Linked DNA regions of Homo sapiens: region 1 is linked to region 2. Evidence: fine-mapped expression QTL. A gene starts in region 2. The other region holds a variant in brackets. All regions are shown on one strand. Distances are between the middles of the regions. Region 1 overlaps BMAL1 (basic helix-loop-helix ARNT like 1). Region 2 holds the start of BMAL1 (basic helix-loop-helix ARNT like 1).

The links. PIP is the estimated chance that this variant, and not a neighbour inherited with it, causes the effect.
Region 1: its variant is fine-mapped to the expression of BMAL1 in monocytes after LPS (Fairfax 2014, PIP 0.95).

Annotation. Positions count from the first base shown.
Region 1 is chr11:13,338,194-13,341,092 of GRCh38, reverse strand. All of the region lies in intron 3 of BMAL1 (basic helix-loop-helix ARNT like 1), which reads right to left. Among named protein-coding and RNA genes, the nearest start is that of BMAL1, 62 kb to the right of the region's middle. RefSeq lists an enhancer at 2,660-2,829. The variant A/GTGTGTGTGTGTA (reference allele first, on the strand shown) is at 1,663.
Region 2 is chr11:13,276,692-13,279,590 of GRCh38, reverse strand. It overlaps BMAL1 (basic helix-loop-helix ARNT like 1), which reads right to left and starts at 1,801. Exons shown (of 20, transcript NM_001297719.2): 1 at 1,668-1,801. RefSeq lists silencers at 791-1,130, 1,411-1,480, 1,551-2,200.

The sequences.
Region 1 (2,899 bases), 62 kb before region 2:
TTTGACAATAGAGTGAGGGGATTCTGGGTGCCCGAGGAGAGGCAGGGCAGGATGGTGGTCAGGGCGGGGCCTCTTGGGTTCCAATCCCAGCCCTGCCACTTACTAGCTGCATGTCCTAGGCAAGTTAGGTGACTTCCAGGAGCTAGAGATGCCTCATCTGTGAAAGGGGTGGATTCCCCGCACTGGGTTGTTGTGCAGACCACATGAGTTGAATAGAAGAAAACACCTAGCATGCTCAGTGGCGTCCACTATGGCCATGGAAGTGGATGGCCTTGTGCTGGTTGAAAAGGGAGAAGGCTGGGAAAAGTGATGTCAGGAGATGCAAACTCAGGTTGAAATCCTGGGGATACAAGAACTCAGAGATGGTGAGAGCAGGGGTGGCAAGAGGACATGAAGGAACTTAAAGCTGGAGAGATCCAGGACATTGACCCCTGGGAACGAGGAGGGAGTTGAGGAGAGTGGCTGCAGGGAAGGCTACAGGTATCCTGGGGGTGGGTCTGGAAGGCATTCCAGAGCGCAGCATTTCATAGCAGGAAGCATTGAGGACTCCAAAGAATCTGAAAAGTGAATAGAGTTTTAAGAGTCCAACCGCTTTGTTTTAATATAAAACAGAGAGACAACTCCTCCTGTGAGAAGCTTGGACTAGGACAATGAGAAAGGTCAGTGGGATATGAATAACAGAATTTTGGAGCTGCTCAGGGAGATAAGATGTAGAAAGCAAGGACAATGATTTCCTTAGGGAGACGAAGCCCACAGGAGGAAAAGCGGAACCCAGCAGGGTGACAGCTGCTGCTGAGGGGTGGGCTGCCCCAGGGATTCTGGGGTGACATAGTAGCATCAGCTAAGGATGCTGGGGGCATCTCTTATGTCCCACCCAGCACAGGGTTTGGTTGACTGGCAAGGAGGCCTCAGACGGCTACCACTGCCCCAAAGCCTTGAGGCAATCCAACACAGTTTATTGAGAACCCACATATGCCAGGTAATTTCTTCAGTGAAAGAATTGGTAATTTGAGTAAATTTCCACCACAAACTGCTTGTAGTAGCCAAATTTCAATTCGGGACAATTTTGTAATAACGAAGACACTGTTGGCATGCTGGCCCACGATCACTTATTAGTCTCTCAACAAATATTTACTGAGGGCATCCAAGTGCCAGGCACTGTTCTCCATGGCAGTGCTGCAGATGGGGGTAGGGATATAAAAATCCTTGTCCTCATCTGGCACACCTCCTGGTGAGGAAGGCAAGCAAACGAAACAAGTAAGTTATGTCGGGTGCTGGATGGCAGTAAGTGCTCGGGAGGAAAGTCAGAGATGGGGAGGAGGCAGACCACAGGAGGGAGGCAGTTAGAAAGGCCCCAAGGAGGCTGGACAGGAGGAGGTGAGAGGTGACAGATGTGTTCCAGGCAGAGGACAGCTAGTGAACAGGGCCGCAGGGAGCTGCCCAGTGCTAGGGGACCAGCGACCTGGGGCATGCTAGGGAGAGGAGACAGCTAAGGAAGGTAGGGGTGCAGTCAGAGGGCCAGGTGTGGGGGCCTGCAGACCCCAGTAAGGATCTTGGCCTTGACTCTGAGTAAAATGGGGAGTGACATGATCCCTCTTAGGTTTTAAGTCTGGCTGCAGTGGTGAGAAGATACCATGTGTGTGTGTGTGTGTGTGTGTGTGT[A/GTGTGTGTGTGTA]AAAGCAGGGCAGGAAGCTGAGTTAGGAGACGGCTACAACAGTCCGGGGAAGAGATGCTATGACTCAGCCCTCTGTATTAGGTGTGGGGGTGATGAGAAGCAGCTGGATTCTAGACATATTTCCAGGGGCTGTGCTGATCAATGGGATGTGAGGTGTAAGAGGAGTCAGTCTGAGTGGCCACGGCAGGGTGACAAAAAGTCAACTCTTGCTATGTTCTGAGAAGTTGATTCTTGGTATGCTCTAAAGGAAAAGCCAATGGGTTTCCTGACGGTCTAGACATGGGGGTGACTCCCAGTCCATGAACTGCACAAAGGCCCCCAGCCAAGGGGGCAGCTAGGGCTGCAAAGCCACTTGCCAGGTACATGCCCCATGTGACAGCTGGAGGAAGAGGTCCCTGTACACCATCCACCCATCCAGGGAGGAGCTGCTGGTTTGGGACATGTTCAGTGTGGGATGCCTATGAGATGTCTAGGTGACACCACAGGCCCTGTTGCTGTGAGTGGAGGTGAAACAGAGCAGTCACCTGCCACCCCCACAACTCTGAACACTGACCACGTCCCGTTTACTGAGCATCAAACACGTGCCTAGGATGGTTCCTGCCCTGACGTGTCTCCTTTGGTCCTCGTAACGACCTTTTGGGGGAGGCATCGACATCACATAGAAGATGACACTGAGGCTCAGAGAGGTATGGCAACTTGTCCAAGATCACACAGCTGAGAAGGGCTAGAGCAGGGACTGGAACCCAGATATGCCCACCTCCAGGCTGGGACTCTGCACATGCTCTATTGCTTCAGTGACTCAGCAAATAAAAGCAACAGCTCTGTCCCAAGTAGGAGAAAGAGGGCAGGGCAGGCTCATACCCATCCCTCCTCCCACCTACGGGGCAAGGATATCAAAAACCAGTAACAAGGACATGAATAACCAATGGGCTGGGGGAATGGCACATCTGTTCAATGGGTTAACTAAAAGTTAGCCAGGTGATCCTTTCTGTTTAAACGTGAACAACTGAAAACCTTTCTAAAATGCACTTGTCCATTTGCCTGGCAAGTGCACTTGGAGGAAGATGATGTAATCTATAACGAGTCTCGGGATCTTCCCAGCCCTAGATCTAAAATGTTCGTCTGAATGTATCCTGCCTGACCCCAGAAATAACTCTACAAATTCCTCTTAATGAAAATGAAATCGGCTTGTTTTTTTTCCTTCATTTGTCTCCTTCTGGCAAGAAGAATTTAAAAA
Region 2 (2,899 bases):
AATTTTTTTAAGTCTTGCAAGCAGAGAGAGCATGATATTATTCAAAACTGCTCAGGAGCAGCAATGATTATTTTAAGCTCATGATTCAACGGGTACATTAATTAAAAACTCCACCAACCCAAATTCACAGATCCGGATATCAATGAGACCAGAAGAATTAAAATAATAGTTGTCATTTAATAATAGATTAAAGGGGTGAACAACAGCAGATGTCAGAAGGACAAATGACAAGCAAGCAGGTGTCGTGGGAAATGAATGCATCTAAGGGGCAGCTTTTATGGATGTTTAATAAAACGACGATGCTGGAAATACGGGTATACGGGTAGTGTCAAGAAAAGCTTGTTCACAAATACGGAATCTGATTTTTGGAAGCTGGGTGAGAAAACTTGGCTAATAATTCCTCGCTGAGGAGTAGCGGTGGAAGAAGGAAGAGACCGCAAGCGCCAAAGCGCCAAAACAACGCTAGGTGACCGGGAAGGGGCCGAGGCGGAGAGGGGAGAGGGGTCAGGAGGTGCGGGGTGCGCGGCGGCAGCGGGTCTCTCACCGGCCGGCGAGAACTTGACAGCAGGCGCCGGTGTCCAGCACTCCCCTTCCCTCCCCAGCTCCTGCCGGCGGGCACCTGAGCTCACCCCGCTGCCGGCTCTCGCGACCCCTCGGGGAGGCTAACATGCGCCCCACAAGGTCGACGTTCACCTCTACCTTCCTCGTCTTCTTCCAAGCAAACGGGAAGCTCTCTGGGATGTCAACGCCCGGCAATAGCCGAGCGGGAACCTTTTCTTCCCTGACATCTGTCAAACCCGGAGCTGGAGCCAGGCTCGCTGCGCCCTCCGCGGAGCTCTGGGACTCCAAGGCCGGCCCGCACCCGGGCTCCGGGCGACATCCCCAGGCCGACGCGCACCTGCCCGCAGACCCACGGGGCATCCTTGAGGGCCGCCCAGGACCTGGACGGCACAGGCCCCACGAAAGTTCGCAGGCTGGGGTCGGCCCCGTGCCGGCCGGGGATTCCCGGGTGCAGCGCCAGCCCTGGCTACAGGGCCGAAGGGGCGGGCGGACTTGGACTCCCCAAGCCCGACGGAGACGCCCTCCCCGCCCCCACCCAGCCTCGCGGGCTCCCGAAAGGGAAGTGAAGCGGGGAGGAAGGGCAGACGCGGCACCGTTCGCCCAACGCCCTTGAGGGGCAGCCACCAGGCATGGTCCCCTCGGGGATCCCCGAAGCTCCCGGGGACACATCTAGGAGTCCTCTTCGGCCGAGTCACTGCCCCCAAGGGCAGAGCTATCCCTTTAAGAGGCAGCTAGCTGCCCCCTCCCCCCGCCAGGTAGCGATGCCCGCGGAAGGGCGGTGGGTACTCCAGCGAACACTTTCCCGGCCCCTTTAAGGGCTCCTGCAGCACCTCTGCCTGCCCTAGCCCGCAGCGGCAGCCCCCGCGAGGAGGATGGGGGCGGACGGGCGCGGCGCCTTTAAGGGGCGCAGCCTCCCCACGGCCCGGGTGGGGGCAGGGAGCGGTCACGGGCCCTTTAAGGCCGGCAGCGGGCACGTCGGGCAGGGTTCTTCGGCGGCCGGGTTGCCCCCGGGGCGGCGGCAGGGGCGCAGCGCCCGCGAGGGTGCTAACGGCCCCCGACGGGGTGCGCGGGATCGCGTCGCTGGCCGCCGCCGGCCTGACACTCACCGTGGCTCGCCGGGAGCGCCCGCGCCCGCGCCCGCACTCGGATCCCGCGGCGGCGGCGGCGGTGAGTCCGGCGCGGGTAAACAGGCACCTCCGTCCCTGACCTACTTTCTGCCTTCCCTAAATGTCGCACCACTAACCTACTTTCCGACCAATCCGCTCCCCGCCGGCCCAGGCCCGGCCCCCCGCCCACCAATCGCTGTGCCCAACCCCCCTTCCCCGCCCACCAATGGAGGAGCCGCAGCGCCCGGATACCTGCCTCTTCCCGCCAGCCAATCCGAACGCCCGAAGGGAGCCGGTCCCGGCGGCCGCCCCCAGCCAATCCGCGCGCGGCTCGGCAGCCCGCTGGCCAGTTGTGTGGCGGCTAGAGAGGCCGCTGACCAATGGCGAGGCGGCGGGAGCCGGTTTACCTGCTACTTTCCTGCCACCAATCATTTGGCGCACAGGAGCGCACGCCCCGAGGAGAGGACCAATCCGCGCGCGCTCCCTGGGTTCCTCGCCCCTGCCCTCTCCCTTTCCCCTCAGGTCTCCCACTAGCCGCGGCCACTGCGGTGCCCAAGCCGCGCTCCTCGGGGTCGCCCGGGATGTCCCTCTTCTCTGGGTCCCCTGCCGGCTGGCGTTTGGCCGCCCGCCCTCACCCCTCCTCCTTCTTCTTCTCCCCTCCGGGCATTCCGACGAAAAGCAGCAGTTCCTGACTCCCTCTCTCCCTCCGGCTCCATCTAGGAAACCAATTTTAGGAACGTTGAGTGCCAGACCCTTCCTAAAATCCCTGGTTTGCCAAAGTCTCAACGAGAGAACGGATACTTAGTATTTCTAGAAGGCATTTCCACCCCGAGGACTGCAAGTGTTCTCACGTTCTTTGCGTTCATCATGACCTCCAAGTGTCCCACTGGAGCTGTCATTCCCGTAGTTCCAAAGAGAATACTCGAGCGCGGAGCGATTCCATTGCATTTCCTTCCAGTAGCCAGGTTTTGACCACTTACTGAAGAGTAGACACCAGCCCCGCGGCAGCGCTCTCTGCTGCAAAAAGCTGTCTACGGAGCAAGACGGAAGGAAACAGTTACAGAAAATAAAAATTTGATAACGACATGCGACTCGGTTGCTGAGAGGACAGAGAAAGTGACTTATTTTTGCATCTCAGGCACTTTGTAGAGGGCCTTTAGCACAAAGAACTCCCGGCTCTTCCAGATGTTAAACTCCCTGAATAGAAGGACAGCGTCTTCTTTTTCGTTATC